6 separate regions of the Homo sapiens genome follow, and regions 1, 2, 3, 4 and 5 are each linked to region 6. The links come from fine-mapping of genetic effects on gene expression. A gene starts in region 6. Each other region holds a variant in brackets. All regions are shown on one strand. Distances are from middle to middle.

Region 1 (4,926 bases), 180 kb after region 6:
CCTCAGCTCCTGGCCTGCTTGTTCCCTTCCCATTACCCTTGTCTCTGCTTAAGCATCAGCTCCTCAGAGGTCCTCCTGACCAGCCCATTGCAAGTACCCTTTCCCCTTCCTCCTTGCGGTTCTGTTGCTCCCTCCACCTTGCAGCTCTGCAGCTTCCCGTGAATGTGATTGTTTACATGCTGACTATCATGTCCCCCACCTGGCTGTTCACCCCTTGACACCAGCACCAGCTTTCTTTCTGGCTGCGTTGCTGCCTGTGCCTGCAGTGGTGGCTCCGTAAGCATCTGCTGAACAAACGCATGGATGAATGAGCCCTTTCAGATCCAGGCTGTGTGGGGCTCAAAATTAAAGAAAACAACATACAAAATGACACATATAAAATTAGGAATGGGGTTTATTTAAATTCTTAAAAGCTGCTAAATTTCTGTACGTCACAAAACTATACAGTATTGAATATTTTAATAGTTACCTGATTGTATTGTACGTTTTCCTACATTTTTCTCTTGCATACATTTTGCCTTTTCATATGACAAAAATGTTTGGTATTGCTTTTAACAGGACAGAAAGATAATTCCTCTAGTGTGGTCAGATAAAGCTTTTTTTTAAAGTTATGGATAGTTGGTGGCATGCAACGTGCAGATGGTCACACAGACAGACTCATGTGGCATTGGGTAAGGTTTTGTCCTATAGACACAAGAATTTTGATGTATTCTTTTTCTTTCTTTTTTTGAGACAGTCTTGCTCTGTCACCCAGCCTGGAGTGCAGTGGAGCAATATCAGCTCACTGCAACCTCTACCTCCAGGGTTCAAGTGATTCTTGTGCCTCAGCCACCCAAGTAGCTGAGTAGCTGGGATTACAGGTGTACACACAACACCCAGCTAATTTTTGCATTTTTAGTAGTGGCAGGATTTCACCACGTTGGCCAGGCTGGTCTCAAAATCCTGGCCTCAAGTGATCCACCCACCTCGGCCTCCCAAAGTGCTGGGATTACAGGCATGAGCCACTGCACCCGTCCTTAGATTCTTTTTCATCCCATAAAAAAAAAAGATTCATTTACATTTGTGTATATGCATTACAAATTATTCCTTACAAGGGAGAACATTTATTTTGACTAGGTAATAATGAGAACTGAATCCTCTCCTGATAATAGCGTGTCTGATGATAAGAAGATTTTTCTTAGACTGGCTTCTGGCTCCATACATTTCAAACCTTGCTCCTTTTCCTCTTCCACCAGACCCTCTGGTGCTGGGCACCAATGAGAAGCTCATCTGGCCCCGGGATCCTGGCAGGACACTGGGAGCACTATTTCCATGGGCAGCAGGGTTGTTCCTGGAGACATCACTGACCCAGGACACCTAGCACAATGGCACTCGATGTGAAAGTGGCTTCGTACAAATCTGCCACTCAAGCCTAAATAAGTGCATTCCAGAAGAGCCGCAGCCCCTCTAACAGCTCCTGAGGTGAGGGAAACCCTAGGGATGGGAAGTTGGAGCAGAAAGAGATGGTGGCCTGAAGTCAACTGCAGTGAAAATCTCTCCCCATCAGCAAGTTTTGCAAAGCTATGGCCACAGGGACACATGACTGGGGCCCCTCCTAGTCTTGGAAGGAGCCCCCATGGAAATGAGGGCCTCACAGTGAATCCACCTCTGATCCTACTTCACCTGCAGTCAAATGAGAAGAGATTTCAATCAGCTAAAGACACCCTATCCCCTCTCCCCGACCCCTGCGACCCCAGGAGCTCCTGCCTTGTCACTGTGTCCCCAAACGAACCGCATCTGAATCAAGCCCCTTTCTCTCCCTAGTGGTCAACATCTGGGCTGTGATGGGCAGCTCCCACTCTTGCCTTAGAATATGACTGGAGAGGTGACTTCTCATCACATGGAGAATATGTTCACCCCATGGTGCTTTCCACCCAAGCTGACCATGGCTTGACTTTTTGGTGTAGTTGCTAGCTCTGTGCCATCCTTGGCAATGTGACCCTGGAGCAGCTGTCCCCAGTGTGCATTTGGGGGATTTCATGTAATTATGAATAGGATGCAAATTTTATAGCCCCAGTGAAGGGAAACACCCCTGGCGAGGCTTCCCGGGGCCAGAGAGAGGACTCCACTGAGGGAGATGGTGGCAGGGCCATTCTTTGTGTCCTGCTTTTTTTTTTTTTTTTTTTTTTAACATCCTCTTTATGTCCTGAGAGCCATGTGCAGATGAGGAAAAATGACATGCAATGCATTTTTGCCTGCCACAATGACTTTGCAATCATA[A/G]CAAGCAAAATGTTCTAAACAGTAAGTGAATCGAGGAAGATATACTGCCAAGTCAGGAAGAAAAAATCCACCTGTTCAGTGATTTCAGGAACTGCTGAAGAAAATCACCAGTGAGTATCAGTTTCTGCAAGAGAATCTAATGCAGGCTTTGCTTCTCATCGGAATCCCCCAGCTGGTGTCTTGGTTGACTGAGAGTCTGGGGGAGAGGGCAGAGAATGGATTTATTCTCTGCTAGGTTTTTAACAGTCAAGAAGGGCTGTGGTCCTAAGGGGCACTGGTCAAACCTTAGTGTGCATCAGAATTATCTGGATAAGGCTAGGCACAGTGGCTCACGCCTGTAATCACAGCACTTTGGGAGGCTGAGGCGCGTGGATCACCTGAGGTCAGAAGTTCAAGACCAGCCTGGCTCTTTTAGTAGAGAAACCCTATGTCTATTAAAAAGTACAAAATTTAGCCAGGTGTGGTGGTGAGTGCCTGTAATCCCAGCTACTTGGGAGGCTGAGGCAGGACAGTCACTTGAATCTAGGAGGCAGAGGTTGCAGTGAACTGAGATCGTGCCATTGTGCTCCAGCCTGGGCAACAAGAGTGAAACTCTATCTCAAAAAAAAAAAAAAAAAATACCTGGAGAGCCTGTGAACATGCATAGTGCTGGACCCCATGCCAAAGATACTGATTCAGCCTGTCTGGGGTGGGCCAGAGATTCTGCATTCTGTCTAAGGAGCTCCCAGGTGAGGCACATTTGCAGACCACAGTCTGGAGGTTTGAGGACTTGGAAGACCATGGCTGACATATCTTGAGTCTCTGCCTTGGTATCCTTTGCCAAGCAGAGAAATGCACTGTTTATGTTTTTCAGGAGCTCAGGAAGCAGAATGCAACCCATGCAGATGTAGGGGCTGGATTCTCTCTATGACTGAGTGGGAGTCTCAGCCCCAAGAAATGCCCCGGGTTGGCCCTGAAATCCACAATGGCTTGCTGGGCTGGAGGCCACCAGCTGATGGGACCCAAGAGAGGAATGAATTATTTATCTGGACTCCTCACAGAGAACAATGCCCTGCAAATGTCCCCCGCACCATGCTGGGTGGAATTCATAGTCAACCTAACAACCAGCTTAGCATCTTCTCTCCCGGACCTTGCCCCTCCAACCGTATCGAACTTTGAGGAGCAATTAGGGAATTGCTTGACATCTTCCCTGCGAGCTCTTGGGTCACAAAAGCTAATTAACCTTCCTCTTGCCTTCCAAACTAAGTAACAACCTCCAGAGCCAAGTCTTCTGGAACAAAACAGGAAGGAAGAAAGAAACTAAGAAAGAAGCACTGTCTCTGATTTTTTTTTTTTAATGAAGGTTAACATATAATTTTTAAAATGAACTCCATGGAAAGGAGGTTGTGGGGTTCACAACCCCTGGGAGCAGTTCCAGCAGTGCCAGGACGGTCTCAGTGGCAGCCCTCTGCTCATCTTTGAGGTCTACTTTGCCCAGCAGCTAACTCTTGTAGGTGGAAACATGGTGGCTTCTTGTTCTCTGGGAAGTTCTGGATGGGAACTTGATGTGGGAAGTTGTGAGGTGCCCTGAACTTGGAGGTGGGGCTCATTGGCACCACAGTGATGGTCCCATCTGTGCCATGTAGACTTGACCAAGCAACTCAAGGTGTCCTTAATGTCCCAGACTGAGAGAGAATTTGCCGGCCTCCACCTTGGAATATTGTTGACTTTCAGTGCACGACGCAAGTCCTCTCCTTCAACACTCCTCTCTAAGAAGATACACAGTCAAACACTTAAGGACTTGGGCTTGCGGAGGGTGTAGATCTGGGCTCAGATTCCCATTCTGACACTTACTGGCTACGTGACCTACACTGTGATTCCCAAATGCCTGCATATCCACATACCACTGTGTCCCACTGCACTAGCTACCCGGAGCTGCCATAACACATTGCCACTAACTAGGTGGCTTAAAACCAGAGGAATTCATTCTCTTATAGTTCTGGGGGTCAGAAAACTTTTTTTTATTTGTTTGAGATGGAGATTCGCTCTTGTTGTCCAGGCTGGAGTGCAACGGCATGATCTCGGCTCACCGCAACCTCTGCCTCCTGGGTTCAAGCAATTCTCTTGCCTCAGCCTCCCGAGTAGCTGGGATTACAGGCATGTGCCACCACGCCCAGCTAATTTTGTATTTTTAGCAGAGACAGGTTTCTCCATTTTGGTCAGGCTGGTCTCAAACTCCCGACCTCAGGTGATCTGCCCCCCCTTGGCCTCCCTAAGTGCTGGGATTACAGGCGTAAGCCACCACACCTGGCCCTGGGGGTCATATATCTTAAATCAAGGTATCAACAGGACCAAGCTCCCCAAAAGCTCCAGGAAAGGATACTTCTTGGCCTCTCTTCTGGCTTCTGGTGGCTGCAGCAATCCTTGGGGTTCCTTGGCTTATGGATGCATCACTCCGTACTCTGCTTCCGTCCTCACTTGACCTTCTCACCTACCTTCCTTTACGTCATCTTCCTTCTGAGATGCTCTGTGTCCAAATTTTATTCTTTGTAAAAGGATGCCAGTCATTGGATCAGAGACCACCTTAATCCAGGATGACTTCATCTTAACTAAATTACATCTGCAAAGATTCTATTTCTAAATAAACCCACATTCTGAGGTTCTGGGTGGGCATGCTATTTGGCAGGA
Region 2 (4,926 bases), 50 kb before region 6:
CTAGGCTGCAGCATGCCTGATGAGAAGCTGCTGTGGGTGGTTGGGCAGTTAGGCACTATTTCCCATGGCCTGGAGAGCAGCTGAGAGGGTCCTGTGGGTCACTCTGTACTAGAATGGACTGCAGCTAGGGGCGCCCTGAGCCCTTTCCCTGGAGCTGAGTGACAGCTTGAGCTCAGGGGACCAGCATGTAGAGTAGAAGACTTGGGCTGAGGTCCCGCCCTCGTGGCCCCATCTCTGTGGGGTGTCCACTACGTGTGAGTCCAGGCCCTTAAAGATACCATGGGGTCGGGGGAGTAATAATGAATGCAGTTGAATTTGCTGTCTCTTGGATAGTGGCGGTTATTTGCAGATGAACTTTGGCTTAAAGAAAATAAAGAATGTGGCATGTCTTTCTTCCTAATGTTGTGAATAGGAATTCATTCCAGCTATGCTTGTTGGCACACCTCAAGCACGGTCCAGGGCTCAGGAACATATCGGTCTTATGCAGCTCTTGGATGCTTACCACAAAAGGAGGGCTGGTTGTGGGTGAGAGCCATGGCAGAGTCTGGGGCATGGCAGGTGCATTGCTGCAGGATGAGCCTTTGCGAAGGGCTAGGCTTGCTGCTTTGGGGCAGCTCCCAGGATGGCCACCAGCAGAAAAAGCTCCAGGCCTGGTTCCATGTTCTTTCTCCGGTCCCCACCTTTCCTTCCTCCACAGCACATTTTAAAGTCTGATTTCAGGGGCTTGGGAACGTCCCTCTGCCAGATCCACCTGCATGCTTGCGTCTTGGGATCTGACCACAGTCTTCAACCTTCTGAGGGAGTAGTTACCACCTTTTTAGGTCAGGGAGTGGGTGATGGTGAGAAGGGAGCAAACAAGCCTCTTGGGAGAGAGTGCAGGGAAGTGCACTGATGTTTTGGAGTACCTTCCATTACCATCATTGTGCTTAACGTGTTCGTTACGAAGCAGCCTGGTGATGCTTGCTTCTCCTCCTATGGGTGACTCCTCCTCTGTCCAACAGGGGAGCCTCACGGTGGGTGCCTTTGCTCAAAGAGGACCCATCCTCAGGGAGTTTGCAGCCAGCCGAAGGGCAGCCAGGAGTGAAGAGTGAATGGAAGGTGAGGCGGGAGAGGAAAATCCACCTAAGCTGAACGTGGCTTCAATAATTAATAGCAGCGGGCAAAGCCGACATTACATTAGGAAAATTTAATTAGAACATGCAACTTATATATGTAATTGGATGCCTGGGGCAGTAATAATGCATTTTCACAGTACCTCAACCATCCCCCCAGGCTTGTTTTGACTCATAAAAAGGGATCAGTCATGAAGAGCTGTGATGCTGGAGTGTTATTTCTGTTGTCCTGGTGGTCACTTACGTAACCTAGTGTGTAGCCTGGGGCAGGCTGTAGCACCTAGTAGGTAGGTCCTCAGTTGATATTTGTTGACTGATTTAATGGGATTTTATGATGAGATTGAATAAATGAGGGCACACCTGGTTTTTAGGACTTCCCTGGATGGCTCCATGCTTCCTCCTGGACCAAGTGTGTTCAGATGAGAATGGCCCTTCCTTGCTGTGGGCACCCTCTTTGCTAGGGTGCCAAGGTCGGAGCTGATATTGGTTATCTCATCGGGCCTTGCAGCAGCGCCGCAGATATTCTGCCTCCCATTTTGCCCGCGGGGACGCCGAGGCCCGGCGCCGCATCCTGCCGCCCGTTTTGCCCGCGGGGAAGCCGAGGCCCGATGCCGTACCCTGCCGCCCGTTTTGCCCGCGGGGAAGCCGAGGCCCGGCGCCGCATCCTGCCGCCCGTTTTGCCCGCGGGGAAGCCGAGGCCCGGCGCCGTATCCTGCCGCCCGTTTTACCCGCGAGGAAGCCGAGGCCCGGCGCCGTATCGTGCCGCCCGTTTTGCCCGCGGGGAAGCCGAGGCCCGGCGCCGTATCCTGTGGCCGTTTTACCCGCGGGAAAGTCGAGGCCCGGCGCCGTATCCTGCCGCCCGTTTTACCCGCGAGGAAGCCGAGGCCCGGCGCCGTATCCTGCCGCCCGTTTTACCCGCGGAGACGCCGAGGCCCGATGCCGTATCCTGCCGCCCGTTTTACCCGCGGGAAAGCCGAGGCCCGGTGCTGTATTCTGCCGCCCATTTTACCCGCGGGGAAGCTGAGGCCCAGTGCTGTTTAATATCTTACTCATGTTCACTTGATGAGAAAGTGACAGATCTGAGACAAACCCAGGTATGAGGCTGCA[G/C]AGCCCTGCTCTGAACCGCTGAGTCTGTCTCTTTTCTTGGGACAGGGACAGCTTCCTGTGGTGACAGCCTTGCTCTTGGCTGCAGGGATTAAGGGAGGAATAAAGCTCGGGGCTACAGCCAGCCCATCCGGGATGGGGAGCTACCACAGGGCAGCAGGTTTAGCTCTCACTGCTTTTCTGACCTGAGTATGCCTAGAGAGGGGAGCTCAGAGCCATGGAGGAGCAAGGAGAGCCTTGGGTCCTACAGCGGCTACCAGACCTCTGCGTGCAGTTCTCGCCCTGGGCAAGCCCTCTGTGTGGGTGGGTGGGTGGGTGGGTGCTGCCAGGACAGGCCTCTGGGAAGACGTGGAACACTGACGGAAGGAGGGAGGAGGGCAGAAGCCAGGGTGTTTGCTCCTCTCTCCCGTGGCCTGGGATGGGGGTCTCGTGCACTGATGTGTTTCCCTCACCACTCCCGTGGCACAGCCCCTCCCCCTTTCTTCCCCGCTCCAGCCAGCACACCCCTGACTTGACTCCACCTTCAGCAGGATGGCCTTGGCGTCTGTGTCCTGGCAATGTCACCCTCCTCTCATTTCTTCTTTAGTTCTAGAGGTTATGACACCAGCCATGGAAGAGCAGAGAGGCCAATGAGGTGGGGAGGTTGGAAACAAAAGGCCTTCTCCACCCCAGCTTGACCAACCCAAAAGCTGGAAGGCAAGGAAGACCTAGGTGGGTTCTGTTTCCCTGAATAGACCTTGACTCATGGACCCTCCATATGGCCAGAAGGTGACCCAGGCCTGTTAATCAAAGGCCCGCACTGCCCTCTTTGCAGCCACTGATTCAGGGTAGGGCATGTGGGTTAATGAAGCCAATCATGAGCAATGGGACTGAGCTCTGAGTGTTTTGAGTGTTTTGGTTGAATTGAGTAGGGGCTGCCTCTCTCTGTCCACTTCCATGTTGTGACATGGTGACAAGGAGCTGAGGCAGAGCAGCGTCCCTGCAATGCTACCAGAACAAGGCTGGTTCTGAAGGCAGAGCTCCTCTCCCTAACTTTGCTGATATGCAAGCAAATAACTTCCTTTTTAAACAGAAGCCAGTAGCCAGTTTGCATGGGATTTTATCACCTGTAACAGAAGAGTCTTTTTTTTTTTTTTTTTTTTTTTTTTTGATGGAGTCTTGCTCTGTAGCCCAGGCTGGAGTGCAGTGGTGCAATTTCAGCTCACTGCAACCTCCGCCTTTCAGGTCCTGATTCGAGCAATTCTCCTGCCTCAGACTCCTGAGTAGCTGGGATTACAGGCACACGCCACCATGCCCAGCTAATTTTTGTATTTTTAGTAGAGACGGGGTTTCACCATGTTGGCCAGACTGGTCTTGAGCTCCTGACCTTGTGATCCGCCCACCTCAGCCTCCCAAAGTGCTGGGATTACAGGCCTGAGCCGCTGTAGCAGCAGAAGAGTCTTAACAGATATTGTTCACTTCCTCACAGTAGGAGTCACCCAGGCAATGGGATGATGTGGGAAGGGCATGCGATGCTCTCAGGTGAAACTGGTCCTGTGCCCACATCTCGCGTTAATTTGTTAACTGACCTTGAGCAATCCACTTCCTTCTGTGGACCTCATCTCCCACCCTCTCCTGTAAAACGAGAGGGGGGCTCTCCTTCCTTCCCCAGTCAGCAGCCCTACAATCTACAATGGCAGGAACGTGTGAGTGCTCCTGCTGCCACCCCCGCTCAGCTTCGATGGTGCCCCGTTGTCCACCACACAGCTCTTCTTAGATGCCCTTTTTAAAATGAAATGCTTGCACTTAGCCACACGTATCTTACAAGGAACAAATTCATTGATGGTTGCATTTCTTAGGGACTGGACAACAGTGTGTCATAGGCCTGGAATCTGAGGAAAGGGGGAGAAATGCAAAAAGGTGCAAAAAAGGTGCAAAAAGGGCCACTAGACTTGACCAGCCTCACCGTTTTCACAGAAACTAGACTGAACAAAAAGAAAGTGCTCACTGGCCTGATAGAAGACACGCACTGTTATCATCAATAAGAATGGACTTATGTATTGCTAATGTTTACTATGCAATTAACAATTTCCGTTGACTGTGTGAAGCATCTTAAGTGCATTTTAAATTTGCTCCTCCCAAAAGGGTACATGGGCACTGTCTTTATCCTCAAGTCACAGATGAGAAAATGGAGCCCCAGTCAGGTATTAATTAATTACTCAAGGTCACAAAGAGAGAAGCCAGGTGCCCCAGCAAATCGACCCTGAAGGCAGAGTCCCTGCCCTTCATCCTCCTCCTCTTCTTGGGGATTTTCACTGACTTGGAAACATTCTCCTCTGCTCCTGAGGATGGCCTGAGTTTATCAGAATGGGTGTATATTGGCAATTCTCCTAACATTTGCTGAATCTTCATCAAAGATGCCAATACTGTCTGTCAAGCCTGCAGTTCCAGTGTGGCCCCTCTGCCACCGCGCATTCTCCTCGGTTCACTTTCAATTGCCTTTTAATGGGAGAGAGATAAAGTGAAATTACAGCCTTGGGTAGCTTCTTACTTGGGAGGCTAGGAACAGCCCGGCCCTGTGCATCACTTACTAAAGCTGCATTTACAGTCCCGAGAGCGAAGGGACAGATCGCAAATCAGATCATTTATTGCTGCTGCTAGCTCAGCGAGGAGAACATTCCCAAGGTGAGAGAGGTGGAGGCTCTGTCCGTGAGTAAAACAGTTTGTGTGT
Region 3 (4,926 bases), 69 kb before region 6:
GAGACGGCGTTTCACCATGTTGGCCAGGCTGGTCTCAAACTCCTAACCTCAGGTGATCCCCCCACCTCGGTCTCCCAAAGTGCTGGGATTACAGGTGTGAGCCACTGCGCCCAGCCAAAAAGGTTTATTTCTTGATCACATGACTCAGCCAGAGCAGGTGGGCATGGACCTCTGCTCTCCCCACTCCACCTAAAGAACCTTCTCCACCTCCTGGTCTCCTTACCTGGAATATGTGGCCTATGAGGTTTGCCAAAGAGGAGAAAATGGAGACACACTAGCTGTTATCAGCCTGGCAGCCACAGGCTCACTTCTGTTCTTGGCCCATTTGCCTGACCAGTCCTGTGGCTCCCACCACCTGCAGGAGAGTGGGGAACAGAGGAGGCAGGAAAGACACTAGGAAGAGTGGGGAGGGAGGAGAACTGCACAGCTGGAGAGGGTAGGAGGGATGCTGAGTGGGTGCTGCTGGGAGGAGGGTATGTACTACTGGGAGGAGGGACGCTGGGTGGGCACTGCCAGGAGGAGGGATGCTGGGTGGGCATTTCTGGGAGGAGGGGGGGAGGGGGAAGAGCCACACAGCCCGAGGTCCGTGGCAGGAGGAGATGACAAGCAGGGAGAACACCAACGGAATAAACTCTGCAGTTTCCTTCAGATCATCCCTGCATAGGTGTTTCTCGAAACTCATGTTCAGTGAGAACAGCAGGCATAGACTCAGGACAAACCCTCCATCTCCTTTCAGGTTAGGTTGGCCCATGGGCTGGAGCGTCTGCGTCTTGGTCGGCCCGGCAGTGTACATGTCAAGCAGCGCGCAAAGACTCCACAGCCATTCGTAGGCACTGCTGGCCTCATGCTCCAGACAGCCCTGGGACAATGGGCCACCAAGGGAAATCAATGATTGCGTGGGCGCAGGTGACCTCCAGCCTGCTTCAGGGCCACCCTTGTTCCCCATGCCAACTCCCTCCTTCCTATGGGCTCCCAAGAAATGGGTGGCAGAGACCAGCCTGGTGATTTACCTCCTGCCTTTCCGTGACTTCCTCCCAGTCCTGTGCATCTCATGTTTAATTATGAGGCTGTGGAAGGTGGTGATATTAATTATAGGGCTGAGGTTGTGTTACTTGGAGAAAGTCAGTGCACATGTCATTTGATTTTCCTCAAGAAGGAAAACTGTATTTTTTCCGATCTCAAAAATAATTCCAGGGAAATAAATGTGTACAATCACACTTTGGGGTTTAAAACTAACGAGTTTCAGTTTTAAAACATGTTAAAAACCTTTCTATTTGGAGAAAGCTGGAAGAATCCACTTTGGGGATCTGGCGGTTCTCAGGAGCTGTATTACCTCGGGATGGTCTCACTGGTTGGTAGCAGCTTTTGTATGAGGAGGGGCATGGGGTCCCGACTTAGGCAGAGAAGGCTTTGCTGAAGAGGTGCAAAGCCCAGCTTAGGGCTGGGTTTTCTACAGACCAGGAACAAAAGCATTGCTTGGCAAGATTTCTTCTCTGCTCAGAGAAAACACGCAGATTCCAAAGAGTGAGATGGAGAGAATTTGACATGTCTTGGTTTGAAAATAAGTCAAAAGAAGTCTAATATTAACAATAGCAATAATAATAACAACCATTAATTGTGCCTGCGTTAGGTACCAGGCCCTATTCTAAGTGTTGTGAGTGCCCTCTGTCATTTAATCTCCACGGAGTCCTGAAGGTGCTTCCCAGGTTTGTCCCCATCACACAGATGAGGCAATCGTTCTGTTAAGACTGTCCTTGGGTCATTATGTCAGCAATGAAATCGGTGCTGCCATTACTAAACCCTTACTGTGTGCTGGCATTTGTGTATGCATGCATGTGTGTGTGTGCACACGTGTGTGTTTGCGTGTACATGTGCATGTGTGTGTTGTGTGCCTGTGTGTGCACATGTAGAAAGAAAGTGATGTGTGGGAATGGAGAATTCCAACCCAGGAGGAGACTGTGCCTGGGGCTGCCATGAGAAGTGGTGACACTTCGAGAAACGGGTTCCAAATGCACGTTGCCTTCCAGTTCTCTGTGTGACCTTGGGCAAGTCACTTCAGCTCCCTGAGCTTTGTTTTTAAAAATATTTTTTAAATGTATAAAACCATGGACCATTACATATGAAGAGAAATGTGTGTGCAAACATTCAGTTAATAATCACAAGGTGGAGGAGTGCCTGCTCAGACCCAGAGCTGACACAGGGAACTCTCCCAGAAGGCTGCAGGGCTTCCCTCCCAACCCTCCAACGGCCCAGTTGCTGAGCCCGTGCTTATCTGTTCAGTGGAAATGCCATGTGCCACGTTCCTCAGAAGTAAAGCCAC[T/G]AGGTAAGTGTGACACTCTGTGCCCAGCTTGGTGCAAAGCCTCTTGTGTGTGCTATCTTATTGACCTCCCAAATAGCATGGTAAGGTCAGTACTGTCACTTCCCCCACTTTGAAGATGAGGAGAGCACAAATTCTAGATGGAAATGGAGGTCACGCAGTGGAAATAGGATCCAGACAGATTAATCCAATCTCAAGCCTGAATTCTTCCATTCCACGCTACGCTTGAAGCTCAATCTCTCTTCCTGGTTGATTCTCCCCACTTCCCCACCCCCAGATATATCCCATCGCTGCTTGGTGGACAGTAGCCATGACTGGGTTTTGGTAAAGGTTGCTGAATAATCAGGCTGCTGGTTAGTTTTTACATTTCACCTTTCCCAGTGAAATGGGGCCCCATGAAAAAGGCAGCTCAAGTTGTAAATTACTCAAAGGAAGGACAGAAAGGTCTTCTGTTTGCACCTACCCTAAGGATTTGGGGTAGACACTGGGAATTTACTAATTATGAATTCCAGTGCTTTCCTTGCTGAAAGAGAGGCGTGGAATCAACGCTGAGTGAAGGCATCAAGTTTAAGCTGCTAATTACTTCCTGATCATGCAGAATAAAAGCTACGTCCCTTGAAATACACCAGGCAGCTAAACATAATCTTTGCGTTTCCGTAGTGTTGGTTAAGGAATCCAGATGTTACTGCAATAACCACTCCATAAACAAAAGGAACACCCAGCTGTGAGAACTGGCTTCTCAGCATTCGTCCCAGCAGAGGCTCTTCTGGGGCCAGCCCTGGAAGAACCCATCAGGGTTCTGATGGTTGCCCTGTTTCAGCACAGCCCTTATTGGCAGGCAGACGGCTACGGGCACAGCCACAGGCTGAAGGTGAGTCCAGCACACAACTTTCTGACAGTGAACAGGAGTAAACATGGGACCCACCCGAAACCTTTGTCTGTTGACTTCTTAGCAAATGGAGGCAGCTCTAGGCTCTGGAGAGTTCGGGTATAGGAGACCATGACTTGAGCAGACTGATATAAGTGGAATGCAAACATATTTAGATGGCACAACTTAATTTAGATTTATCAGTGCTAATATAGAAAAAGCTAGTATTTATTGGGGCTTATTAGATTTTTAGTCTGAATCCTCACAACTTACGAGGGGGTTCGTTTTACAGACTATGATCTTGCATGATTTCCCCAAAGATGCTCATTAAGTATATGGTGAAAGTAGAATTTGAATACAGAAGACCTGGTTCTGCTACTTTCTGTGTTTCTATTTGGTTCAAACCAGCCTTTCTTCTTTCAAAACAACTTCAGTGCAATTCATGGTTTTGGAAAATAAACTTGATTTTGAGATTCAGACAATAAGTGCATTTTTAATGTTTATTCTTTTATCTTGAAAAACTGATATATTTATGAAATGATATGTGCTCACTCAGTGTCAACACTTCAAACAACACAGACAGTACAATGACAAATTGGAGATCAGCTCTAATCTCGGCCCCCAATTTAATGCATTGCTGAATATTCTTCTGAACATAGTCCATCCCACACTGTCCCATGACACAAGACGCTCCAAGGGGCTGAAGATAGAGGGACTTCTGCAGTCAAGAGAGCTGGGAAACTCTTGGACAGTCACAATGTGCATTTGGGTATTAAAGGCTCTGCAAAGTTCTGCACCAAATAAACCCTTGGATTGGCTTGATCCAATGCCATGTTTCCAAAACCTACTTGCCCGTGGGACACCTTAGTCCATAACACAGGTTGGCATTTCTTCTAGAGAGTGTGCTGTGAAAAACACTGGTCTCACAGCACCGTGCATTCATCCAGCAGGTATTTACCAAGCAGGGACTTTGGGCCAGGTCCGTGCTAGGCTCTGCAGGTGGACCAGCCAGCCCTGACCTCCATGGTGTCTCTTCTCATGGGAGAGGCTGCACAGCAGTCATTGAGAAAACGAAGAAACACACAGGTACTTTCAGATGCTGATAATGACTACCATGTGCTAAAAGAGCTCCAGGTGTTGTCTGTTTTGAGACAATCTTCTCGACAATGAGATAGAATGAACCATGCAAACTTTGGGGGCTACGATGGTTTTAGGAAAGAGCTAGAGTGAAAAATCCTTTGACATATATACATACAAATAAAGATACATGTGTATAATTTTATGTAATTGACATCACATTATATGCTGGCACCTGCCTTTTTTGCTTAATGAAAATGTCAAAGGTAATATTACCAATCAATCAATATATTTCACCATCGTGTTTAATTTCTGCAGAGCACTTATTCAAGCACATACTGCATTTTTCTTAGTCACTCACTGGTGGGAATAGAAAGTTTTCTCAGGCATGCATTTTTCCCACTTCTGAAATGATCTCCTTAGAATAAATTCCCCAAATTGTATTGCTGGGTTCAAAGGCATGAACATTTTACATTTTTATACAATAATGTCAAACTACCTTCCGGAAATGATGCTCACTTTACTTTCCCTCCAAGACTGTGTGAAAATGCCCATTTTCCTAAATGCTTACTATGACTGGTTTCCAACTACATTTTAATTCTTGTTCAATCTGATAGGCAAAAAATGATATTTAATTTTTATTTGATTGATAATGACCTTGAAC
Region 4 (4,926 bases), 150 kb after region 6:
AAGGTTGTAGAGACAATAACTTTGTATGAGAAAGGATCTTGTATGGTAAATGCTTGTCCTAAAGTAAAATGCCTGGTTGTTTAAAACAAGGGATGTTTAGGACAAGTCAGAGAGTCCAAGCATGTCATAGATGGTCTGTGTAAGTCATGAAGAGGACTTGTGTAGGAAAAGTAGAATATACATTTGATAAAAGTCATGAGAATGTGGATTTTTGCCTAAGTTTTGTTAAAGGATTGTTTTAAGTGAGATAGGAAAAATCTAGAGGCTTGAACAAGTTGTGTAAGGTTTATTAAAAATTAATTATAAAAGAGATTCTGTGTGTGAACATATTGGCTAAAGTTAAAAAGGAAAACTGGTAATTATACTTCACCCATATGCTAGCTTGCAAAGGATACAAGTTTTTGCTAGTACTAGTAGACACCTTTATTATTTATTGGCTGGGTTGAAACTTACCTTACCGGAACAGAGAAGGCTAATGAAGTTATAAAGATTCTCTTAAAGGAAATAATCCCTCAGTATGGGGTACCCTAAAGCTGCCAAAGTGATAACAGCCTGTCTTTTGTCTCCTAGAAAGCTCAAGGGGTTGCTAAGGCTCTCGGAATCAAATACCATTTACATTCATCATGGAGACCTCAATCCTCCAGAAAAGTGGAAAGAGCTAATCAAACTCTAAAACAGGTTTTAGCTAAGCTATGTCAGGAAACATCACAAACTTGGGTCAGCTTATCTGCCCATAGCCCTCTTAAGGATCCATAGTTCCCCTAGAGCAAAAATTAATATGAACCTACATGAAATGTTATATGGAAGGCCATATTAAACTAATGATTTATTACTGATCCAGAAATGGCCAGGCTAATAAAATACTTAGTTAGCCTAGGACAATTTCAGCAGGCTATACAAAAGTTTGGAACTCAAAGACTGCCGACACCAGGAACTAACCAGCAACCCAAAATCAGGCCAGGAGATAATGTACTTGTTGAAACATGGAAGGAGGGATCACCTGCTCAAAAATTGCAAACCAAATGGAAGGGACCATTTTCAGTGGGACTGGTCATGCCTTCTGTGGTCAAAGTAATAGGATTAGATGGTTGGATACATCTTTCCAGGGTCAAGCCTGAGACACCTGAAGCCCTGGACTTGGAATCTGAAGCTGTCATCAGCCAGTACACCTATGAACCTGTGGAAGACCTGAAGTACCTGTTTAAAAGACAGCCAAAAGATAAGTAAATACTTCCCAAATTTCCTTGGTGTCTTTGTTGCATAGTTGCTGTAGGCTGGATAATAGTAGCCATTGTTATATTTTTACAATTAATTTCTTTCCTCCAAACAGATAGAATCACTTCCTTTCTAATAATTAAGCAAAGTAAAATGTTGTAATCCATTTTTGTAACAATCATTCCTGACAGGATAGGTATCCATCACCACCCCTACCCCAAAGTTCCCATTCTATAGAACAAAATAACAAATATGTATTTTTTGTGTTCCATAATAGTCACCCATAGCCTGTGTATACTGGGACCAGGCATATGGGAATCAACTTTATTTTACAACAGCTTCTCTTTAGCTCTCCATCAGTTAATGGATTCTGGGTATTTATTAAGAACTTTACATTTAATGGAAAGAATGTTAAATACCACCAGCCCCACTCTGGCAGAGGACTGTTGGCTTTGTTTATCTCCATCATCATCCCAATACTTTGCCATCTCAATCCCAGCCCAATCTTGGGCCTTTGAGAAAATAACCTATCATTCCTAACTATAAGGGTGGAACTCCCTTCAAATTAATGAGCCTGGATGACTTATATGACTTCAAAATTATGTAAATGACAAGGGTTAGAATGACAGTATGAGTAGTAAACCTCCTCCAGTCCCATCAGAACAAACTTTCTGGGGTTAC[G/A]TCCCATTAGAAACCCATTTGGTGGCCAATATCAATGTACACAGAACTAAAATTCCAGGTGCCACTTTATATTAAGAGAAGCCACAATTTTTGTCAGGCCCTGGAAACCTTGAAAAGTCATCGACACAACTGCACCCTGGAAATTAATCCCTCACATAATCATGTAAGCTATGCAGTTACCCAATCAGCATTATTTAGAAAACCTGTATGGTTTTCATGGAAATCATTCTGAGTTAAGGACACTTTAAAGGATATACAGTCTAAGTACTGTCAAGGTAGGCCCACTAGCTGTGTTCACATTTTCCATTGGGAAGACTGTACTGATCCTCAGATATCTGGTTGCCTTTTGATTTGCCGGTATGAAAATAGCTTTGGGTGATTGTTGGAGGACACTAAGTGTAACTAACTCCATTCGGAAAACAGAACTGCTGGGGCAACTCGGGATACTTCCCAAGGTCCTTTCCAGCCTTTAACTGGGGCCATCTTAGCAGGGACCTTAACTACTTGGAAAAACAAAAATGGCAAGCTAACCCACATGTTCATCATAGAAAACAATTTTTGTCTTGAACAACAAGGAGCTTTTTTTCCTGCGTGGAACTGGTTCCTACTTATGTTTACCAGCCAACTGGACTGGAACCTGTACACTTGTTTATTTAGCCCTGGCAATTAATATAGCTCCCAATAACCAATTCCTCATTTTACCTTTGACTGCAACTGCCAGGCACAGATTAACCAGTCAACTCATACCCTTTTGGTAGGGCTAGGCGTAACAGCTGGAATAGGAACAGAGGTTAGCGGGCTTGCAACTTCCCTATCCTATTATCAATGCTTGTCCAAGGATTTTATGAAAAGCTTGGATGGCATTGCCTAAAGTATCGTCACCTTACAAAATCAGATAGACTTCTTGGCAGCAGTCACTTTATAAAATAGGAGGGGACTGGATCTCCCTAATGCTAAAAAAGGTGGCTTATGTCTTTTTCCTAGAAGAAGAATGCTGCTTTTATGTCAACCAATCAGGATTTGTAAGGAATGCTACCCAGAAAAATTAGCTGACTGGGCCTCTGATATATGACAACAGCTGTCCAAGTCATGGCACTCCTGATCAAAAATGCTAAGTTTGGGGTTCATGACTCCTTCCTCTAGCTGGCCCTTCATTAATGATGATACTTCCCTTGGTTTTCGGATGTTGTTTGTTAAATCTCTTAACCAAATTCATTTCCTCTTGCCTGGAGACCATCAAGCTGCAGATAATGATGCAGCAAGGCTTCCAGGTAAAGACACCACCCCTGGACATCAAGAAGCTAGCCTCTCTCCACTAGACAGAGCAGGGCAGGATTTCTGTGATCCCCAATAGGTAGGGACTGCACCCAATTCAGGATGAAGCAGTTACAGAAGAAAGACCGTCAGTCTCTCTGCCTGCCGTGAAGACTTTATGGGGATCACATCTCTCATGGGGGAGAAATGAGGCAGGAAAATAGGTACTGGGGGCAGGGAACCTAAGGCCAATTCACATTGACTTCCTAGAACTAAATCAAAAGGAAAAACCCAACTTTCCACATAACAAAAGAATAGAAGCTACTCCCTTTGCAATCCCCACCCCCTTTCTGCATGGCAGATGAGAAATGGAAAGTACCTCTGATGGCTTCCCTCTCACAACCAATCAGAGTGGACACGAGCCTAGTTTTCATTTGCATAGGGGTGTAACTTTGTAACTTTACTTCAGCCTCTGATTGGTCCCCTCCCACAACCAGTCAGATGTTTGCGTAGGGTATAACTTTCTAAGTTCACTTCAGCCTCCGATTGGTCACCTTCTGAAACCAATCAGACTGGTCACAGGCCACTCCTTCATTTACATAGAATGTAAACCAAGTAACCAATGGGACACCTCTAGAAGGTATTTAAACCCCAGAAAATTTTGTAACCTGTGATCTTGAGCCACTTGGTCGAGACTGCTCCCACTTTGTGGAATGTACTTTCATTTCAATAAATCTGTGGTTTTGTTGCTTCATTCTTTTATTGCTTTGTTTGTGCATTTTGTCCAATACTTTGTTCAAAATGCCAATGACTTGGAAAACTCGTAGTCAAGACCCTCCACTGTTAACGGGAGGAGGATTAGAGGGAGGGAGAGGAAAGGAGGAGGAGGTTAAGGAGGAGGAGGAGGTATGGACAGAGGGAGAGAAGGAGGAAGAAAGCTGAGAGACAGAGAGTGAAGAAGTGGAGGTGGAAGGAGGGAGGAAGGAGGAGAGAGAAGAATAAAGGAAAGAGTGAATGAGTCACTGTTTCTGGGTTGTGGGACTGGCTGTGGTTGTAGCTTGCCTGTCTCCCTGTCTCTGGCCCCTTAGGCCAACCACGGGATTCCTGGCCCCAGGATATTTGCAGCACTGGTGTTTGGAACTTCTTACTGAAGTCCATTCCAGAAGTTCTCCCTCTGACCCCACTCTCTGCTTCTGTGGCCCCCAGTCGGGTCCTGCTTCTGGCCTGGGATTTCACATTTAGATCTTTTGTCCAGTGACTAAACCTCAGCATGGCCCAGCAACTGGGGGCCTGGTATCTCTCTAGGTGCAGTGCCCATCGCGGCTGCTCCTGTTCTGGGGATTAGGCGGCCACTGACCTGTCCCCACTGGGGCCACCTTTCGGGGTCTTTGCAGCAGCACTGTGCTCTCAGGTTTCTGGAAGAGGGTATTTCGGCAGAGATAACAGAATCGGCCAGCAGTACCTACCCATGTTTTCCATCCAATAAGCCATCACCTTCCAATTACCATAATGCCTGTAAGTGTAACAAAAGGCTCATTCTGGTGACAAATGTGGCCCTGCACTCTATGTCCCTTGAAGGATAAAAAGGTGTCTCAAATTCTAGTTATGAATTCTGTCACTAGTTCTAATAAAAACTTGCAATAATTAAATTAGAAGCAGAATATAGCTTTTTTTAACATAAAAGGAGAAACAATTTTCTGAGATAAGTCAATTCAAAAAAAATGTAACTGCTTGTCCTATGTATTTATGAAGTAGAAACTCATTTTCCCATCCAAT
Region 5 (4,926 bases), 83 kb before region 6:
TCTGGCACCCACACACTGGCACACCTTCCATGACCCTGAGGCTCATGCAGCCTCCAGACTCACCTACCAGTTCTCTTCCTGGGATTCTCAGCTTTCTAGCATACCCTCTTCCAGAGGTGGGAGACCTCCAGTTAAAAACAAAATTGTACACAACCGCAGCCTCATTTCCATTGTTTAAGAAATTAATTATCTTGGTGTATCTTTTCCAATAACAGCTTTCATTAAATTAAACCCAAGGCATTTATATTCCCTGGGAATAACAGGCTGCTTATATATGGCGGGAATGTGCTGGAATTTCTTTAGAAATCAGCACATTGGCTATTGAGGACTAGCTGGTGATCACAGGTATAGGTTTTGAAGTTAGATTGTCAGGATTAAAATCCAGGCTCTGCCATTGCTGGCTGTGTGGTCTTGAGCAAGTTACATTACCTCTCTGTGTCTCGGCTTGCCCATCTGTGCAATTTGGACAGTAAGAGTTCCTATCTCCCAGGCTTGTGGTAAGGATTAAACACGTTCATGTAATGATCAACAAGGTTAACTATGAACATGCTCACAAAGACACACATGGGCTCTTCTGGCGCAATAGGGACGTGGCCTGGAAGCTCACTGCCACGTGGCATTTGGGACCACAAGGGATCAGACCTCATCGTCTGTGCACAGATAGACAAGATCATAAAGAGGAAAAATTAGCATCGGGAAACTGGTTATTTATTTAAGATTGAAAGCGGGAGAAATCTGCCCTGGACATCTTCCCCTCTCCTCTGTTTGTTTTGTCTGCCAAACAGAGGCAGTACCCCCTCTCCACTCTATTTATTAATTGAGTAAACTCCGTGATCCTAAATGCAAACAAACATGGGGCCAGCACAAACAAGCACGTGCTTCCTGTACGCGCCACTTCTGAGTAGCAGCCCGAGCAACAGGTGGACTGGCTGGGAGACAGAAACGGCTGCAGAAGGCGCCTCCAGGATTTGGCGTGAGAGCCCTGCAAGGTCAGCCCATGTGCTCCTTCTTTGTTAGATTGTTTGTTCATTCATTTGTTTATTCATTCCTTTATTCAAGTGTTTAGTGAGAACTTCCATGTGGAAGACAAAGACCTAGCTCACAAGGGGTGCATGGTCTAGGGAGCTAGGTGTGGACAAAGAGCCACGTAGGATGTCAGTGCTGAGATGTGGCAGCCACGGGGAGCTATGGAAGGGGGCAGAAAGAAGACCCCAGAGCTCAGGGAAGGCCTGCAGGGCAAGTAGGGAGTTGTCAGCCCAGCAAAGAGCCAAGAGTGTGAGGAGAAGGTCTGCCAGCGCCTGAAGGGGAGAAGCCATGGTTCACCAGCTTCAAGAGTTGATACAGTTGAAAGCATCATCTCTCCATGGCCAACATCCTGGGCTGTGGCTTTAATTTGGGCATAGTGTGTGCCTGCAAAACCTCGGCTGTATTCAACCTAGTCTGCCATTGATGGAGTGAGAACTGCCCCCAAATTATTTACATTCAAATTTGGAAGCAACTGAAACCCAACAGTAGGAGATTCATTACAGTAATTCCATGGAAATGGAATAATACGCTGTCGTTAAAAGTGTTCAAATCTTTTATGGTTATGATAAATCTAATAATAAAATCGAGACAATATTAGAATATATATTTTAACATTTTCCTAGTTTTGTGAAAAAAGCCCCAAATATCTGTATGAGCCTAGATAAATGACAAGAAAGGAAAACAGTAAGATTTTTATAATGGTTATTGCTCAATGGTTGGATTTTTAAAAATACTCTTCTATAATTTCTAAATTTTATGCCCTGAGGATGTATTACCTCCATAGTCAGAAAAATTATGAAAGGTATTTAAAACCCAAACTGGCTTTGGGCATGCAGAATGCTTGGTTATTTCTGAAGTATAAAAATAACTCCCCCTCTGTCCCATCAGCACGCGTGTTGCAGGGAGTCTGACGTTGCTCGCTAAGTCTCTTTGGTCGTTTCATACTAATGCCCTTTGCTCCCCTGATTATCTCTCTGAGGTTGGGGCCGGGGGATGGGGGTGTGCTAGGCCTCCTGGATGTCTGTCTGCTGCCAAAACATCCTCTCCTGTCTCTGTCTCATTGGTGCATTTTGATGAACCTGTATTGCCTGGTCACTGCGC[G/A]CTAACCACCAAATTATGAAACATTTGTGCTGCAAGGGAGCTGAGAGATCCTTAAACTCAATGAACCATTAGGCATAAGACACACACACACACATACACACGTGAATACACACAAACACACAAACAGCTTGGCTGCTCTGGGTGAAGCATGTGTGTGTTTGGGGGAAATTTCCTTCCCCACCCGTGGTCGTCCATTTGCCCATGAGCAGCTTCCGAGGCAGGTCCGTGGACCCCAACGCTGTGTAACACCGTGTGAAAAACACAAAGGCTTGCAGCCCTCTCACTGCAGACGTGGGAACACGACTCTGTTTAAAACCCTTCAAAGCCCGCCTTCTTGCCGTGTGATGCTGCCTGGGCCAGCAGGGCAGGTCACCACGCTGTCTCTTCAAAGCAGCTCGCTCATGCCCACAGCGCTGGGCACAAGGGCAGCCACGAGCTGTTTGATTTCTGCGTCCCCAGCAGATGGCTTGGTGCACAGGGGCAGGGCTCGTCTGTCCCTCTCACTGCTGCGTCCCAGGCTATGTCTCCACCATGTAACTTCAGACAAGTTCCTCAGCGTCTCTGTGTCCTGGTTCCCTCATTTGTAACATCAGGATATTGATAAGGATCATAGTAATAGGGATGTCCTTATGGGGCCTCATGAAAATGAAGAGTTCTCTGTGATGTGCCTGGAACCACAGAGGGCAGCAAGTGGGAGCCACAGAAAGTCATCTCTTTATCATAGTTGTCATTGGTAACTATGACGGTTATCAAGGGCAGGGGTCTCCCACCTTCTGCATCCAGGCCTTGTCATTCCTTATAAAATTTTCTCCTTTCAAGGACTTTCAATGCCCTGAAAACGGAATGCTCCTCCCTGCTCCCCATCAGCTGCTGCAGAGCCCTGAACCCCTTGAACTTGCCTTGCTTAGTTCTTTCAGGGGCTGCCTTGGATGCCACCTCACTTCCCTCTTCTTGGCTCTGTGGCTGTCAGAGGGGCTGGGCACTGGGTTACTTCATCAGTTCCTGGGTGTTGATCGGCAGGAAACAGTGGTTTCCTGTTCATATCCTGCCTGAGCCTGGGCCGGGTGGAGGTGTCCTGCATGGAGTCTTGTGAAATCGCGTGGACTGCAACACCCAGCAGCGCGGTGAGTCCACCCTGAAATCCACAGTGACCCACGCGGCATGTGCTGGGAATTGAACGCTTGGGGAAAGAGCTGGGCTCCAGCGGATCAGCCCCGACCAAGTCGTTCCCACAGCTCAGGACCGGACGCTACAAGCCCACTTTGTAGCAGTTTGGCGGACGGCAAACTTTTGCAACACAGTGCAAAAACCATTTAACACCTTTAAGGGAATTGGAAATGGGTTTTTCATGTGTGGTGGTGCTGAAAATTGAGAATAATGACAGAATTATTAAAAACAGCCTTCTCGGCCTTAGACTCTTAATTGCCTCTGGTCTGTAAAACTGACAAATAAGCACTGTAGAAGCCACAGATGAAATATGTCGTCTTGGGAGCCCTGGAGAATTGTCTCTGAATTCTTTTGTTTATGGATTGTAGAAACTGCTTTGGGGGTAGTTGGATGTAGAAGCAGAAGGACAGAGTGGGGAGCTGGGAGCAGGAGGCCTGGGTTTGTCTCCTGAGTCTGTTTCCACTGGGGCCTGAGGCTCCCGTGTGAGGGAACATGAATGGGCCAGGCACATGGGCCCTGTGGGGTGACAGAGCTGTGGGCTCCATGGTGGCTCTGTGGGCAGCTAGCTTGGGGATGGCTGAGATAAAGACAAGTAGTTTTCCTTCCTGCAGGACTTCTCAGAGCCTTTAGTGTGGTTATAATGATAGAAAACAGTATTAAGTCCATACCCTGAACCAGAAACAATGCTAAAAGCTTTGCACTTGGCCTTTTTTTTTCTTTTTCTTTTATCAACATGTGTGAGGACGGAAGCTTAGGCTTACAGATATGGACTCATTGAGAGTGAGTGGACGTGTCTGATCTTTAACCCAGTTCTGTCTGACCAAAAAGCCTGTGCTCTAACCACTGTGCACCCCTGCCTGTCTGTCCTGTTGAGAGAACTGTAGGGAAAGCCTTGAGATTATGTATCCAGTGCTCCCCTCCTCCTGATTGGAAGATGGCAGCTCAGAAGGTTAGGGTGCCTTCTCCTGTCCTCCGAGTGGTTAGATGCACGTGTCCTCTTCTGTCCTCTGCTCTTCCCACATCCCTCTCTCTCTGGTGCTCTGGTGGAGCCCCTGGGATCAGGGGTCACAGGAGCACCTGGGCCATTTGCATGGTTGTTGGTAAAGGGTGTTCCCCCACCCCCCATTAAGGTGCCTGCCATCAAAGTGCCTTATTGCTTGAGTTCCAATCTCGGCTTCACAACTCTGTAGCTGTGTGACTTTGCACAATGTACTGAGCCTCTCTGTGCCTGAACATCCTTGTTTGTAGATAGTAAAGATAATTGTCCCTTACTCCTAGGTTTCACATTGAGTGTTTAGCAAGTTAACGTTTGTAACGTGTGAAGTCATAAGATGCAGGACTGGATGACTGCCCTACCCACAAGAGGCCTAGGATCTTCCCAAGTTGCACTACTTATGGGACAGGTCTGCCAAGCAGCCCTTGTGAAGATAAAGGTGGTGATGAGTTCCTCCCACAAAACAAGAGCCTCAGAGAGACTGGAAAATAACCCCCGGTGCCTTTTATCAACTGGCCAGCAGATGGCAGAAGCAAGCCAGGAACAGAGCTTGTGTGCGGCGGCTGTGGCAGCTACCTTTGAAAATCCCGTGGTGTTTGGTGGTCGTATTAAGAGATCTCTGGTGTAGGAGCATCCTT
Region 6 (4,926 bases):
GACTGGCTCTCAGCAGTGACGAAAAGCAATAAGAGGACAAAATGTGGTACTTTACACAATGGAGTACTATTCAGCCATAAAAAAGAATAAGAACCTGTCATTTGCAACAACAGGGATGGAATTGGAGGTCATCATCTTAAGTGAAATAAACCAGGCACAGAAAGACAAACATCACATGTTCTCACTTATTTGTGGGATCCAAAAATCCAAACAATTGAACTCATGGAGATAGAGGGTAGAAGGATGGATACTAGAGGCTGGGAAGTGTTGCGGGGGTGAGGAGGACGGACATGGGGATGAATAAGACCTAGTGTTTGATAGTACAATAGGGTGAGTAGAGTCAACGATAATTTAATTGTACATTTAAAAATAGCTAAGAATATAATTGGATTGTTTGTAACACAAAGGACAAATGCTTGAGGAGATGGATACTCCATTTTCCATAGTGTGATTATGGTGCATTGCATGCCTGTATCAAAACATCTCATGTTCCCCATAAATATATACACCTACTGTGTACCCATAAAAATGTAAAAAAATGATTAAAAGTCTAGATATAATTTAAAAGAGGAAACTGTCTTTGTGTGGAGGCCAGCTGAAGACAGATACTGCATCAGGCACTTGGCAGCCTGGTTTCCAGTAGCTTCTCAACCCAGTGGAGTAGACTCTATGGCCCCATTTTGCAGATGAAGAATGGAGGTGCAGAGAAATCACAGCTCTAGCTTTGTCAGGAGGACCATAGAGGTCCAGGGGCTGGAGGTCTGAATATTTAATAGAGGGATTTGAATAACCATGGAAGTTAGCCTGGAGAGAGATTTAGGAGGCAGATAAGCCTAGTGTTCACTGTGGGGGCAGATGCCTTCCCCATCTGTGCAGACGATTGGCCCAAGTGGCCATGATGACATGGCTCCTACCTACTTCCTAATGGACCTCAGAGAATTAAACAGCGAGGACAACAGCGAGTGTTGTCTCTCAGACCCTTGGCTTTTTCAGGACTGCCTGACCTTTCTTTGTCCTTATTTGGCTTCAAGTCAAGTCAGCTCAACCCTGATTGAGCACCGGCAATGAGTCATGTCTGTGAAGGCGACACAGCCCCTGTCCTTGAGGAGCTTCGAGTCCAGTGACTGTCACTTCAGTGGAAGTTGGGCTGGACACAGTCACATGTGTATGCCAGACATGAGGCTTTGTTCTCATTACAATAATTGCCCTGCATTATTCTAGCAATTAAGCTTCTCCACGTGTGTGGATGCATGTTCCCAATTTTTTCTGGCCTCTACCGAACACAATGTTAATATTTGAGAGCAGTCCTAAAAAATTAAATAATTATACAAACTGAATTAGGATAGCATAATATTACCAATCAGAGTAATGTGGCTTTGTAATCCAGTGTGATGTCATATGAATCTACAAATTAGGAAGCATGTCAGAGGAGGAAACCACATCCTTTATTGCTTTGCCTTAAATAGCTTAAAACTAATCTTTTCCATGAGCCAACAGCTATCTCTCATGTTTAATAATGCTCCTCCCTGCCCAGATGAAGCTAACTAAATGATGTTGCCCCCTGCACCTGCAAATGCCTGGTGCCAGGGCAGGGACACAGGGAATGGCAGAAGGGGAGACCAGATGTTGGCTGAGGCATTGATTTATGGGCATGACCTTCCATGTGCCCCGAGGATGGCTGAGACCAGGGTTTGATGAATGCAGTGCTCTGTGTGAGAAGTTCTAAGGTGACAAGCAAAGATTCTATCCTCTGGAGGGGCAAGCCCTATTATTAGGTTGGTGCAAAAGTAATCGCAGTTTATGCAGTTGTAATGGCAAAAACAGAAATTACTTTTGCACCAACCTAATACCAGACAGAGGAGGTGCAAGTGCATGCCACCAGGGCAGGTGCAGGTGATGGGGGCAGAGAAAACTCAGATGTCTCCAATCTGTGCAGAGTAGGGAAACAGAAAAAGCTAAGTGAGGAAAGTGAGATTGCTATCACACAGATGCATGTCTTAGGTTTTCTGATTCCATTCCTCATGAATTTCATTAAGTAATCAAAGTGCTAAGCATGAAATGTGGGTATGCTGTCACCAGGTGGCAGCAGCATCCACTCTCCAAAATGCATTTTGTTCAAACCTAGTATGTGCTGGGTATTCTGAGCACATAGCAGAGACTAAGGCAAAGAGTCCCTGGCACTGTGGAGCTTAGAGGCTAATGAGGTGGCAGGTGCTTACACTTTAGAAACCGTTGTGAGGAATAGCTAGTGGTAGTTAAATGATACAGTGATAGTTAACAGAGAGGAAAGCTTTTCTCTCACTCCAAGCTATATTTTTATTATCACTATTAATATAAATAGAAAATAAATATTAAAATAGTTATTAAATAAGCAAAAGATAATGTTGCATTTAGTTATACGATTAAGTAGAGGTTTTCAAATATTTTTTAGCTTTGTGCAACCGAAATTATATGAGGAAGCAAAAACCACAAATACAGAAAATAAGAACTTTTCTGTTTGAACAGAAACGAGGACACTGGGGAGGCCCTTCCAATGCAGGCCAGACTTTTAGGGGCTCGACAGAACACAGCTGGAGAAACATCCACACCACACGCGGTTTCACCTGCCACACGGCAGCCCGGGTGCCCGGATCACTGTGTGTGGAGACTCAGGCTCACCGGCAAACCTCTTCCGGTTCCGGTCAGGGTGCTGCCTCCCTATCCACTGGGAGTCCTTTTGCGTTTCAGATGCTCCCAGGCTCTCCCGCAGTTTAAAGACTTAACTCAGCGGCTTTCAGGGCCTGTGGTTGAGGGACTCCGAAAGAACTGTTGCTGGTGGACCGGTTCAGGGTCTTGACTTCGCCACACAAAAGAACTTGAGAGCACGTCCAAAGTAAAGGTAAGCAAGGGAGTTGATCGCACAGCGAAAGCGCACTCTGCCAGCGGATCGGAGCGGCCGCTCAAAGGCGAGGCAGTGCTGGCCGACACTGGGGAAACCCCCTTTATGGGGGTCTTACATGATTATTCATGAAGGGCTGGGAAGGGGTGTTGCCGTGAAGCATGTTCTGGGCTGTCTCCTGGTGGCACATGTGCTGTGGTTGTGCATGCTAGTACACACATCGCATGTCTCGTTAGCATCGTAAATCTCCACCCAGTTCTTTAGTATTCTAATGAGCGCAGGTCAGCCCAAGGACACTCATCTTGGGTTTCTGCACTTGGATGAATTCGCGGATTTTTCCTTCGCTCTTTGACCTCCTCGCTAAAGGATGGTCTAACCACGAGCCTGGGATGCGGCTTGTGCACCGCAGGTGGCTTGTTCTCGCCATCTATTTAGCAAGTTTGCTCTCCTTTAAGTGAGGCTGTGACCACCCTCTCTGACCTACCTCAGAACCTGTTGCTTAGCTTCAGAAATCCAGCCTGGTGCTGGGCTGAGGTCAGCCTGAGGTCAAGCCATGCCCCTGAGACTTAACTGCCCTTGGATACCAATTTTCAGCAACAGAAAAGAATGAAAATAAAGTTCACATGAGGGCTAGTGCTGCTGGCAATGAGAAGGTCCTGTGACTACTTTTATTACCACTTCAACGATAAGGAGGTGACCTTTCATTCTCATTTCTCTCTCTCTAATATTTTGCATTCTCCAACTGTTATCTGTAAGAACATCTTAGCGCATTTGAAAAGCAGGGAAAATATGTAATAAAAACCACAACCAACCACACCATCTTAATGATAGCACTATTATTTTGTAATTCCTTCCAGTATCTTTGCCCAAGGTTTATTACTTGTTGAGTATTTGCAATTGTCCTCAGTAAAATTCTGAGACATGATTTTTAATTTAACATACCTTAAGATTTTTGTTTGCAGGTGGCTGAATTTCTTCAGAAAAATTATTTTAAGGGCTACTCAACACTGAGCAGTTAGTATTCATTCAGGTGGCCATTCTCTGATGCCTGTATTGCTTCCAGCTGTTGGGAAATGAACCCAGTGGAGAATATTGTTTTTCTTTTGCTAACAACAACATCCGTTAGGACAGATTTCCACATGTCTGATTGCTGGGCCGATGACACAAACATCGACAATAGCGCTTCACGCGTGTTGACTGATGATTTCCAAAAGCTTATCTTCCCAGTAGGCAGTTTGCCAGATGCTTCCAGAAATAGATGAGAATGCCAATTTCATCACACTGTTGCCAGCACTAGGTATGTCCACTACATTTTAATGCTAGTGTAATAGGCAAAGGGGACCTGCTGTCTGTTTCACCATTCATTTCTTTGCATGGTTGTCAGGTGGGACATTGCATTCTCCTGGAGAGGCCAGATCACTATGTCTCCCAGGAGGCCCTAGCAGAAGCTGCTCTGGTGTCCAGCTCCTGTGTGAAGCCTCCCTGGTCCCTGACTCTTGGAACAGACTTCTTTTCTGCCCTTTAAACACCCCTAACATCATGCGTGGTCCTTTGCTATGACACAGTTGTTCCCCATTCTGCATCGTCATGAGGCTGTCTACACCCTCTCTCTCTCCTGGGCAGGGCTCCGGCTCTGCAGGGGATGGGGACGTGTGTTACTCTGTTAGTCCCCTGCCTTGTCCAGCACAGCACTGTACATGCCACAGAGGCCCCACAGAGCTTGATCAAAAACTAACAATGATTAAACCAAAATTACGAATGGACAAAAAATTTCCATCAAGAAACCTCAACATTTTAATGTTCATGAGGGGGGAATGTAGGGTAAATGCACCTGATAGTAATAAGCATACCCTTAGAATGACCCTGTATGGCAGATGCGCCTAAATGTGTGTTCTGTGCTAGGGAATCCAGGAGTGGCCAACCCGGAGATTGATTCTGTGTCTATGATAAACATCTGAGCCCCTGGCCTGTTCTGTGGAACGTGGGCCGTTCACGGGATTGAGGCCCTGAGTTTGGGATTGGATGAAGGTTGCCAGGGCGAGGTTACC

Which allele goes with the higher level. Alleles are on the strand shown, and positions count from the first base shown. SD is a standard deviation of normalised expression in the study named. Not every link is listed here.
In carriers of allele C in region 2, the expression in testis of the gene that starts at base 2,726 in region 6 tends to be higher than with G alone (small effect, 0.24 SD a copy in GTEx).

The links.
Region 1: its variant is fine-mapped to the expression of MIR646HG in whole blood (TOPMed, PIP above 0.99).
Region 2: its variant is fine-mapped to the expression of MIR646HG in testis (GTEx, PIP above 0.99).
Region 3: its variant is fine-mapped to the expression of MIR646HG in whole blood (INTERVAL, PIP 0.98).
Region 4: its variant is fine-mapped to the expression of MIR646HG in whole blood (TOPMed, PIP above 0.99).
Region 5: its variant is fine-mapped to the expression of MIR646HG in whole blood (INTERVAL, PIP above 0.99).

What each region holds. Positions count from the first base shown.
Region 1 is chr20:60,319,398-60,324,323 of GRCh38, forward strand. It overlaps MIR646HG (MIR646 host gene), which reads left to right. Exons shown (of 5, transcript NR_046099.1): 5 at 1,236-2,859. Among named protein-coding and RNA genes, the nearest start is that of MIR646, 13 kb to the left of the region's middle. The variant A/G (reference allele first, on the strand shown) is at 2,260.
Region 2 is chr20:60,085,795-60,090,720 of GRCh38, forward strand. It overlaps LOC729296 (a long non-coding RNA gene), which reads left to right and starts at 1,892. Exons shown (of 5, transcript NR_109918.1): 1 at 1,892-2,206; 2 at 2,803-2,927. The variant G/C (reference allele first, on the strand shown) is at 2,220.
Region 3 is chr20:60,066,856-60,071,781 of GRCh38, forward strand. It overlaps LINC02910 (long intergenic non-protein coding RNA 2910), which reads left to right. Exons shown (of 4, transcript NR_161293.1): 3 at 2,978-3,188; 4 at 4,133-4,926. Among named protein-coding and RNA genes, the nearest start is that of LINC02910, 13 kb to the left of the region's middle. The variant T/G (reference allele first, on the strand shown) is at 2,321.
Region 4 is chr20:60,283,371-60,288,296 of GRCh38, forward strand. The region is part of intron 3 of MIR646HG (MIR646 host gene); the gene reads left to right. It overlaps LOC105372698 (a long non-coding RNA gene), which reads left to right. Exons shown (of 2, transcript NR_171673.1): 2 at 1,107-3,904. Among named protein-coding and RNA genes, the nearest start is that of MIR646, 23 kb to the right of the region's middle. The variant G/A (reference allele first, on the strand shown) is at 1,897.
Region 5 is chr20:60,052,758-60,057,683 of GRCh38, forward strand. It overlaps LINC02910 (long intergenic non-protein coding RNA 2910), which reads left to right and starts at 3,168. Exons shown (of 4, transcript NR_161293.1): 1 at 3,168-3,251. RefSeq lists enhancers at 4,856-4,905, 4,916-4,926. The variant G/A (reference allele first, on the strand shown) is at 2,128.
Region 6 is chr20:60,135,767-60,140,692 of GRCh38, forward strand. MIR646HG (MIR646 host gene) reads left to right here and starts at 2,726. Exons shown (of 5, transcript NR_046099.1): 1 at 2,726-2,878.